Linked DNA regions of Homo sapiens: region 1 is linked to region 2. The links come from fine-mapping of genetic effects on plasma protein levels. A gene starts in region 2. The other region holds a variant in brackets. All regions are shown on one strand. Distances are between the middles of the regions. Region 1 has its middle 11 kb from the start of CLN5. Region 2 holds the start of CLN5 (CLN5 lysosomal BMP synthase).

What was found. A credible set is the group of variants that fine-mapping cannot tell apart. PIP is the chance, under the fine-mapping model, that this variant and not a neighbour inherited with it causes the effect. Sun 2018 read protein levels with aptamers (SomaScan).
Region 1: its variant is the best candidate, but not a certain one, in a credible set for the plasma level of the CLN5 protein (Sun 2018, PIP 0.52).

The regions. Positions count from the first base shown.
Region 1 is chr13:76,978,793-76,984,274 of GRCh38, forward strand. It overlaps the pseudogene RPL7P44. Among named protein-coding and RNA genes, the nearest start is that of CLN5, 11 kb to the right of the region's middle. The variant A/G (reference allele first, on the strand shown) is at 2,273.
Region 2 is chr13:76,989,640-76,994,639 of GRCh38, forward strand. It overlaps CLN5 (CLN5 lysosomal BMP synthase), which reads left to right and starts at 2,442. Exons shown (of 4, transcript NM_006493.4): 1 at 2,442-2,632. The coding sequence starts at 2,460. RefSeq lists silencers at 1,776-1,865, 1,956-2,025, 2,486-2,725 and an enhancer at 2,747-3,946.

The DNA of each region.
Region 1 (5,482 bases), 11 kb before region 2:
AGGTGCAGCAGCTGTGGCGGTTCCTCACAAAGTTAAAGAGAACTACCATGATTCCACTTCTAGGTATATACACAAAAGAATTAAAAGTAGGGACTCAAACAGGTATTTGTACACCCATGTTCATAGCAGCATTATTCACTACAGCCAACAACCCAAATGTCCATCAACAGATGAATGGTACACAAAATGTGGTGTTCTACATACAAGGGAATATTATTCCTTCCTTAAAAAGGAAGGAAATTTTGACAAGTGCTACCACATGGATGAACCCTAAGGACATAGGCCAAGTGAAATAAGGCAGTAACACAAAGACAAATATTATATGATTCCACTTGTAGTAAGTACCTAGAGTAGACAAAGTCTTAGAGATAGAAAGTAGAATGTAATAGAGGCTACCTGGAGCTGGGAGAAAGGAGAATGAGGAATTAGTGTTTCACGGTTGCGGTTGCAGTTTGGGATGATGAATATGGTCTGGGGACGGACAGTGGAGATGGCTCCACAGCATTGTGAATGCACTTAATGCCAGTCGATCACACACTACTTAAAAATGGTTAAAATGGTAAAGTTCATGTTACATATGTTTTACTCCCTCCCCCTCCCCTCCAAAAAACAAAACACTATTGGCAAAGGGGTAGCAGGTGAGGGGCAGGCTGGTCTGGTCCTTGTGACTGCGAACATCCCTGCTGCCCGTTTTTTGTCTGAAGCCCGGCTGGGTCGCTGGAGATCCAGCGGAGTGTGCGGAGGGAGGCGTGTTGGATACCTTTTAAAAATGAGAAGCCCCAGGCCGGGCGCGGTGACTCACGACTGTAAGTCGCGGCCCAACCCTTTGGGAGGCCGAGGCAGGTGGATCACTTGAGGTCAGGAGTTCGAGACAAGCCTGGCCAAAATGGTGAACTCCTGTTTAAAAAAAAAAAAAAAAAAAAAAATTAGCAGGGCGTGGTGGCAGGAGCCTGTAATCCCAGCTACTCGGGAGGCTGAGACAGAAGAATCGCTTGAACCCGGGAGGCGGAGGTTGCAGTGAGCCCAGATCGTGCCAATGCACTCCAGCCTGGGCGACAAGAGCGAGACTCCGTCTCAACAACAACAACAAAAAAAAATTAGAAGCCCCTGGGGACGGAGAGCATTAGGACAAATACCTAATGCATATGGGGCTTAAAACCTAGATGATGGGTTGATAGGTGCAGCAAACCACCAGGGCACATGCATACATATGTAACAAACCTGCACGTTCTGCACATGTATCTTGGAACTTAAAGTAACAAAATAAAATAAAATAAAATAAAAATAAAAATTAGAAGCCCGAGAGAGGGAAAACAGCTTAGGAAGGGGTTGCCCCCGCCACTCCGCAGGCTGCAGAGGGAAGAGAAAGCGCCCCCGTGGCGCCCCCAGGGCCGTGCAGCCCAGACCTAGCCCCGCAGCCCCACATACCCCAGCACCTCCGAAGCTGCGTGCAGAGCCGCTCGCTCCCACCTCCGGCTGCACCCGCGCGCCCCCTTGCGGCGGATTCCGCTCTGGCGCATAGCCCCACTGGAGCGCTGGCGCGTTGGCGATGGGGTCCCAGGTGGGAGAGAGATCTGTCCGCTGAACCTGCGCATCCCGGCCCCTGCGGAGGCTGCAGAGATTCTGCCCTTTCTGTTCGGAGGGAAGAGAGAGGGCGCCAGGGAGACATAAGCTAGATTTTTATTAATAGATAACTTTATTTGAAAATTATCTTTAAACGAAAGAGCAAGGGGAAAAATGGATTCTATCCTTTGCCGCACTACTAAAAAGTAACTTCCATTCAACTTATTTCAAAAGAGAACGTCGATATTGATATGCAATACTTTTAATTGTTTTAAAATATTTAATTGTGTGCAATAATTTTTTTAACTGCTCAGTTCCAAAGCTGGAAGTTGAAGTGATGTTTTTGACAGGGAAGACTGAAGAAGAGACCCCATTGCATCTTCATCGGAGCTGGAGGACAAAAAAAAAATTCTTAGGACACTTAACATGGAGAGTTTGAGATCCGGATACAGCGTGGGCTGTAACTAAGGGCAGTGGAAGCAGGCAGCCTTGGCTAGGATGCCGCTGCTCCTCATGACATTTTGTCTCACAAACTTAGCAAGTTCTTAGAAAGTCCAAAACGCCATATGTGTTGCCTAATTTTCTTATATGATCACAGGAAATAAATAGGAAAAATGCAGATAATTTGCATTTTATTTGATAATTTTTAAATAAAAGTTACTTGTTAATAAAATTTCAGGTAGGATGCTCCCTGAGTTTCTTCTGTACA[A/G]TATCATTCATTGACCAGATATTTGAAGAAAAGTTATTCTTTGTTTTTTTGAGAGCAGGTACTGTTTATTAACTGACCAGCTTAGAAAAATAATCATGGTAGACACCTTAGTTCATTATTCTAATAAGCTGTTGATCTGGTCCTCCCTGTTGCCAGCATCTCCACCTTCTACAAAATGGGTGGTCTTTTTCTTCTTTCCACCTCATGGAGAAGATAATTTGAAGGACCACAGGAAGTTATTTGCTTCTTCGAAGCATTTTCCAACAGTATAGATCTCATGAATCAGATCTTCCGTGCAGATGATGCCATATTTACCAAGCGTTCGAGCAATCAAAGCGTTATCTGTCAAAGCAATTCGCTTCTTATTGATTTTGCCATAACCCCGCTTGTAGATTAGTTTATTTACTGACTTCAGATTTGGGTACCCCCTGCAATATATGGTTCTACAATCCCCAGCATGTTAATTGAAACCTTGTTAAGCTTCACAAAGTTTCCACTGAAGATTTGACGAAGGCGAAGAAGCTGCAACACCTTTCGGACCTTTGGGCTCACACCACTGATACCTCTGATCCTGATGACAAATGCCAATTTGGGTTCTGCAGGTACATAGAAGTTGCCGGCTTTGCTTGCCATCCTTGCCATTCAAATTTAAGTTCCGTATATCTGTCTATATTCCTTGTGATAGTGCTTCGCTTTTTCATAGATAAGCTTCCTCCTTGCCTTTCGAAGCATCTTTTGGGCAAACTTCTTTCTCAGGCATTTGATCTTCAGCTCTGTGAAATTTCTTCGCTTTTTCTTAAGGGTTTCTGGTACAGCAGGAAACTTTTTCTTCTTCTCTTTGACACTCTCCATGGTTCCAGCGGGAAAAGAGGAACTATTCCTTTATTATTAAAAGATGAAATCTGCAATATCCAGCAAACATTACTTTCCCTACTGGATCTTTAAATTATTAGTCCCATGTTCCTCTGATAAAAATTCACTAAGCCTTTATGTCCTGGGTGCTGAATAAACCCTGCATTTACTTTCAAGAAGAAACCTACCTTTCTTAACCTGGAGGTAGATTGCTGCTCATAAGTGACAGATGGAGTACTGTAAATCCCCGAGGGTGATTCTAGCTCTTGACCCAGTAGGATATTTACTGTCAACGATGCCTAGATTTAGAAAGAGGATGTAAACGTGGTGTGACACCAGACAGGGCAAAGAGCAACTGCTTGTGGAAAACACACATGCATCCGTCATCACTGCAGATGAGGAGGAAAAGGAGGACAAGGAGTGAATTTGAAAAGCAGGATAACTTAGTGTAGGTCTGAGTGCCCAAGATCAAACCTGACTCCACCCTCACTGCCTTATGTGATCCCGAGAAATTACTCAAAATATCTGTACCAACGTTTCCTCAGGCTGAAAGTAGGAAGTAGCACCTTTTTCATAGAGTTGTTGGAAAGATTAAAAATAGTAAATGTCATCTCTGTCAAAACCTTGATACTAGTGTATTTCTGTTCACTGAATGGTTTGTACCCCTTTAGTTTCCTTGATATACGTTGATTAAAAAAAAAAAAAATTTGACTGGGCCCGGTGGCTCACGCCTGTAATCCCAGCACTTTGGGAGGTAGAGGCAGGCAGATCACCTGAGGCCAGGAGTTTCAGACCAGCCTGGCTAATGTGGCGAAACCCCGTCTCTACTAAAACTACAAAAATTATGTGGGCCTGGTGGCACATGCCTGTAATCCCAGCTACTCGGGAAGCTGAGGCAGGGAGGCAGAGGTTGCAGTGAGCCGAGATTGCATCACTACACTCCAGCCTGGCCTACAGAGCAAGACTCTGTCTCAAAAAAAGAAAAAAAAAATCAACAAAATTGATTAAAATGTCTAATTGGCTTTTATTAGTGACTCATAAAACAGGCAGTTGCTAATCAAAATAGAGGGAGCTTCAATGAGCCTGGCAGACCAGTTGGTTTTCCTAAGGTAGCTTGAACAGAAATAGGGAAACAGGAATACAAAAAGTGAATTGGTTAACATCAGTTTACTTCAGGTTACTTTACTTATAAAGGGTTAAAGCAGAGAGGACTTCCTTAACATGCTGACTTAGGCTGACTGGGCCCTTTCTGATTGCTTGCTGTGAATCTCTTGTTTTTACGAAAAGCCAGTCTATTTTGGGAATTTTCCCGTTTACGTTTCAGTTTGATTACAGTTCGATTACTTAGCACGAGCGACCCCATTTTGGTTCAATCTGTTGCGACCTAATGCAGGGGCTCAGTTCAAAACCATGGCCTCTCATACATTTTATTTAACAACACAAAGAAAAGAGTTTTTGTTCTGAAGCCAATTTTCTTGCGGCTATTGATAAATCGATCATAACAGAACTAAAAAATATATTCAATAAACAAGTACAAGATTAAAGAATTGTCTAAACAATGTAATGTAATAAGCAAAATAAATCCAAATCACTTGATTTAGGATTAGGGTAAGGTGTTCCTTATGGCTCCACAGTTTGTTTTTAAGTATTACCTATTAAGTAGATGTCTCACTCTAATCTCTGCCTTCAGTGAATATTATAAATTTTAATTTTATTAAATTCACACTTAAATGATGCTTTTAAAATTATCTTTGGGTCGGGCACAGTGGCTCACGACTATAATTCCAACACTGTGGGAGGCTGAGGCAAGAGGATTACTTGAGCCCAGGAGCATGGGCAACAAAGTGAGACTCTGACTCTACCAAAAACATTTTATTTAATTAGCCAGGCATGGTAGCACAGGCCTGTAGTCCCAGCTACTCAGGAAGTGAGGTGGGAGGATCGCTTGAGCCTGAGAGGTCAAGGCTGCAGTGAGTCATGATCATGCCACTGCACTCTAACCTGGACAACAGAGCGAGACCCTGTCTCAAAATAAAAATGAAAATAAAATTATCTTTGAACTAAAATAAATGATGCTTTAGGCAAGTGAAATTGTCGAAACTCTGAAAATAGGATGTACGTATAGTTGATGTATTTGTTTAGCCCAGTTTATCATGTAAACAACAGGTTAGTATACCCAAGTTTCAGAAACACTTTGGGGGTTCATTAATTTTTGGTTACCTTTAAGATTTTCTTAACCTCTTACATGAATATTTGTGTCAGGGCCAGGCTCTGTGGCTCATGCCTTTAATTCCAGCACTTTGGGAGGCCAAAGCAGGAGGATCGCTTGAGCCCAGGAATTCGAGACCAGCTTGGGAA
Region 2 (5,000 bases):
CTCAAGATTTAAAAGCCATGGACAAGGGGGAAGCAACCAGTATCGACCAGCGATAATCTATGAGCACCTTCAGCTTGGGGTGTGGGGTCATAGACAAAAAGAATGGGGTTTAATCAGTGTTCCCATCCAAGGCAAAACCAGACCAGAAGAATGGGAGCTACCAGGAGGCTGAGTTAAGACCAATACTAGGGCCAGGCATGGTGACTACAGCCTGTAATCCCAGCACTTTTGGAGGCCGAGGCAGGTGGATTACTTGAGGTCAGGAGTTCGAGACCAGCCTGGCCAACATGGTGAAACCTCGTCTCTACCAAAAAAAAAAAAAAAAATTACAACTGGCACACACTTGTACCCAGCCACTAGGGAGGCTGAGGCAGGAGAATTGCTTGAACCCGGGAGGCGGAGGTTGCAGTGAGCCGAAATCACATCACTGCACTCCAGGCTGGGTGACAGAAGGAGACTCCGTCTCCAAAAAAATAAAAAATAAAAACCAATACTAGGAAGTGCTTTCTTACCATGAAAGCTCCCTGCACACAGAATGAAGAGACAGATGGCAGAAGCAAGACCAGAGGCCTCCACCACTGAACAAGGTCAACCTGAATTTGTTTTTGTAGCTCTGGGAAGTCCTGAACTGAATGGGAGGTTCTACTGTGGCCCTCTACTAACAGTAGATGGAACCTGGAACCATCTACTGTTAATTGTCCTTTTAGTAGCCAAGACATGAAGTACCTATCTCCCTTCTTTGTATTTGGTGAAAAGATTTGAACTCGAGCCATCTCTGCTAAAGGCATGACTTTAGTCACCCCACTGCAGTTGCTTCTCTTTGCCTCCAAGAAAGTCCAATCTGATGGGCAGATTGTGCTTGCAGATGACTGGATTAAACTGCAAATATCTCATGAAGCTGCTGCCTGCATCACCGCTCTCCAGGCAGCCACGGAGGCTCTGGTTGTTGAGGCCATCTACTGTGGCCCTCATACATCATACTGTGTATGGTTCCAGGATTTGTAAATGCTCTAATCAATGTTTTTTTTTTTTTTTAAAGCTGTTCCTGCTGATTGCTTTTTAAGCTAGGCTCAAGTGTGGGGCCACGGAATCCTTCAGGTGCCCTTCAAATCAGACATTACATTTCAGCTCTCAGGGCTAGAATGCTTCCCCCTCTTATCTTGGGCAGGTCTTTGAAGAAGCCAGTTTAGCCTTGGTAATTTTGAATTTGGCCATAGTATACGGAGGAGAGCTAGGTAGCTATCAAAACGCTTAGACAAACGTATGGTAAAATGCAGCCCAGCCTGAACCTCCGCAAAACCCCCAAACCTGGAGCAGCAAGTGGGCAAAGGAGTGTGTGTTTGGGGCAGGGTACTGAGTCCCATATGTAATCAAGAGACCTGGAGGGCCCAAGGAAGTCAGTGACACCCCCACAAGCTACATATCCTCCAATGGATTGTGGTGGTCATCTCCGGCTACCGAAGCCACCTTGCTTATTCCCATAGGCTTACAAACATTATGATGCTTCACACGAGTTGTGGGTGAAGTGAAGGAATTGGAAAGTCCCGGTCTAAGGCCCTGCAAAACTGCTGTCTGGTAAAAACAAGTGACTATGGCAAGGCCCTGAATGTACTACGTATAGACTTAAGTCAGTATTTGTGCCTAACAGCAAAGCATGCCACAAGAGGCTCCTCAAAAGCCGGGTAATTGATGCCATTGTTTTCTTGACCTAGTTGAAGAGTCAAAGAAGAGAAGGTGATGCAGAAACTTCTTTCCAGTGAAGTGACAGATCCAAGCAAGGAACACCTGCCTGTGAGGGGAGCGGTAGGGGAGGGGGTAGATTCGGCAGCACTCGGGTAGTGGCAGGGACCACATATTGTCGGTGTTAACCACTGTTATCACTGGCCCAGGTCGAGTGAGGACGAGTCATTTCCCCACTAAGCACTTGGGGAGTGGCAGGGACCACATATTGTCAGTGTTAACCACTGTTATGACTGGCCCAGGTCGGGTGACGACGAGCCATTTCCGCACTATTGTCCCTTCTTCCTCACTGCACCCCCAGCCCTGCACCCTCAGCTCCAAATACACATTCTCGTTCACTCAACGTTTGTTGACACCTAGCGTGGGCCCTGTGGGATGGGGTAAAAGTTCGGTGTTGGGAGGAGCCCCGGTGACAGATTTTTGGTTTTGGTGGTGGCTTTTGGGCAAGGACAGGTCAATTCATAAAAGATGACGCCCCAGGTCTGGATCGAATTCTCCTGGGAGCCAGACCAAAGCACCTTCCTGGACTGCAAAGTGTGGAAGCCGCCGCGGGCCGGGCGCGGGGAGGTGTCATGCGCCGGAACCTGCGCTTGGGGCCAAGCTCTGGAGCTGACGCGCAGGGGCAAGGCGCCCCGCGTCCCGGACTGGCGGCTCCGCGCATGCTCCTCCCACCGGCGTCGCAGGCCTCGAGAGGCTCCGGAAGTACTGGGTGCAGCCTGATGGCGCAGGAGGTAGACACGGCACAGGGCGCCGAGATGCGGCGGGGCGCGGGCGCGGCTCGGGGACGCGCTTCCTGGTGCTGGGCCCTGGCGCTGCTTTGGCTCGCGGTGGTTCCGGGCTGGTCCCGGGTCTCGGGCATCCCCTCCCGGCGCCACTGGCCGGTGCCCTACAAGTGAGTGCGGCGGCGCGCGCACTGTCGGGGTTGGGGTCGGCGTTGACGATGGGGGATGGGGTGCTGGGGCGGGGACCCCTGCTCACCGTGGTTTGTGTCGGGTCACGAGATGGTGCGGGGACAGCGCCGGGTGACGCTCGGAGCGCACTTGAGAGCAAAGTTGAGGACTGGGGAGTCGCAGCCGCTCGTTACGTGCAGCCCTGGGACCTTTCGTCCCCTCTGGTCACTTGCGGCAGACTCAGGACAGTCCTGAATCGTGGAAGAAGAAAAGGAGAGTAATGTTATTTAATGGAGGGACTTCTGGGTACAAGTAGCTGATTTCTTGAGTAGTTTAAAAACACTGTCTATCGCATTTATTTATATCATGCACTGTCGTTAGTTATTACCGCGGAACATTTGGTACAATTTACTGGGCGACCAACTCGCTCTGGTTTGAACCTGATCAGAACCTGATCCGAAGTCCTTATTGGGACTTCCCAGTTTTGCCCTCAAAAGTCGCGCATCCCGGGAATCCCCGTCTCCTGCAGTCCTGGTTAGACCGGGAAGATTGTCACCGCTTTTGTCCAGTCTTCAGCCTGGAGGTAGGACGCCGGTCCTAAGTCGGGGACAGAGCCCGCACACCTGGGAGGTCGATTCCAGCCTTTGACAGAGAAGACACAGCCTCCGGCGGTCAGAGATAGCTAAACACAGAGAAAGAAAACATGGTGTCAACATCAGGCAGGAGAAAGACCAGCAGTTTTTGAAAACAGCTATTTTTCTTTAAACCAAAAGCATCATTGGACATAATTTTAACTTACTAGCATAAGTAATCAACAGCTAAAACTGCACACAACAAACCTGAAAAAAACAGCTATTTTGTATGACAGTATGAGTGGGAAGGAGTTCTGCCTGCTGCGGGTCAAATCTGGCTCTGTCATCACCAGGGATCTTGGGAAAGTTACTCAGAATCTCTGTGCCCACATGCCCTGAGTCAAAAAATAGGAATAGTGGTAGCACGTACCTCATAGGTTTGCTGGAAGGATTAAATCTAGTAAAATGCCAGCTGTTGTCAAACCTAGATAGTGTATTCTGCTCACTGAAATGTTTACAACACTTTTTTGTTTTGTGTGATATACTACGTGGAAAGAGAAGTTTGTGGTTGAAGCTAGTTTTCTGGAAAATGTTAATAATAAAATGTTTGTAAGAAGTCAAAATTACTCAATAGAACAAGAATTGTAAATCCAAACGATTTGATTTAACATTAGGGCAAGGTGTTGACTATGGCTTTTTAGTGGATTTTTTTTTTAAGTCTCAGATATTAAGTACGTGCTCCCATCTAATTCCCTCAATTGAATATAATATTTAAGTTTATTAAGTTCACACTTAAATTACCTTTGAACTAAAATAGATTTTGCTGTGTCAGTGAAATCTCCATGTGATTATGTATTTGTTTAAACCAGGTAAGTGCCTATAAAACACTGTACCCAAGTAGCAGAAACTTTTGGGAGCGTCGTTAATAGTTTCGATTAGCATAAAGATTTTAACTTCTTAAGTTAAAATAGAAATTTTTGTTGATTTGTTAAGATTTGTTAGATCTGGCTACAACCTTGGGGATCTAGGATTCTTAGATAGAAGCTGTTGTCGCCACCACTTCTTTCTTTCCCAGTGCCAGATTATAGGTGACCAGTGTGTCTGTTGAGCTGAATTCAGCTGCAGTGCCCCTCGAGTCCTATTGCTGTGGCCTTCTCCGGTCTTCTTTTCTTGCCTGCATTGTTGAGGTCACCTTCTAACTGATCTCTCATGTTTTATTTGGCCTCTCTCCATACCCTCTTTTAATTCGTGAAATAAGGTTTACTTTATAGCAAATTCAGTCCTGTCAGATCTGCTACTTAACATCCTTTAAGTTTAGCCCTCCCCAATTATAAGGCAGGGAATTCCATGCACATTCTCCTAGTGACAAAATGACAGCCCCTGCCAGTCTCTTCCGTCTCCATTCCTGCGTCGAGGCCTGAAATCCAGTCTTCCGTACCTACCGGAGACCAAATGTGCCAGGCTTGTCTTACAATACTTAACATTTCCTCTGCCTTTCTGTCTTAACCTTCTAATCAACTACATTAAAAACCTAGGCCCGGCCTTCATCTCTTTCTTTGCCCTCCCCACCCCATTCATCCCATACCTGGTTAACAATGATTTGTCCTTCCTGTGTGCCCATAGGACTCATTCCTTTAGTCTAGCACATACCACACTCATTACTTGTTCAGTGTCTTTCCAGCTCCCACCCACAGTTCCATGAGAAAGGGAACAGTGTTTTAATTTTTGTTTCCCTCCTTCTTACTATAGTTCACTATATATGTAGTGGAGCCTCAATAAATATTGGTTGAATGAATGT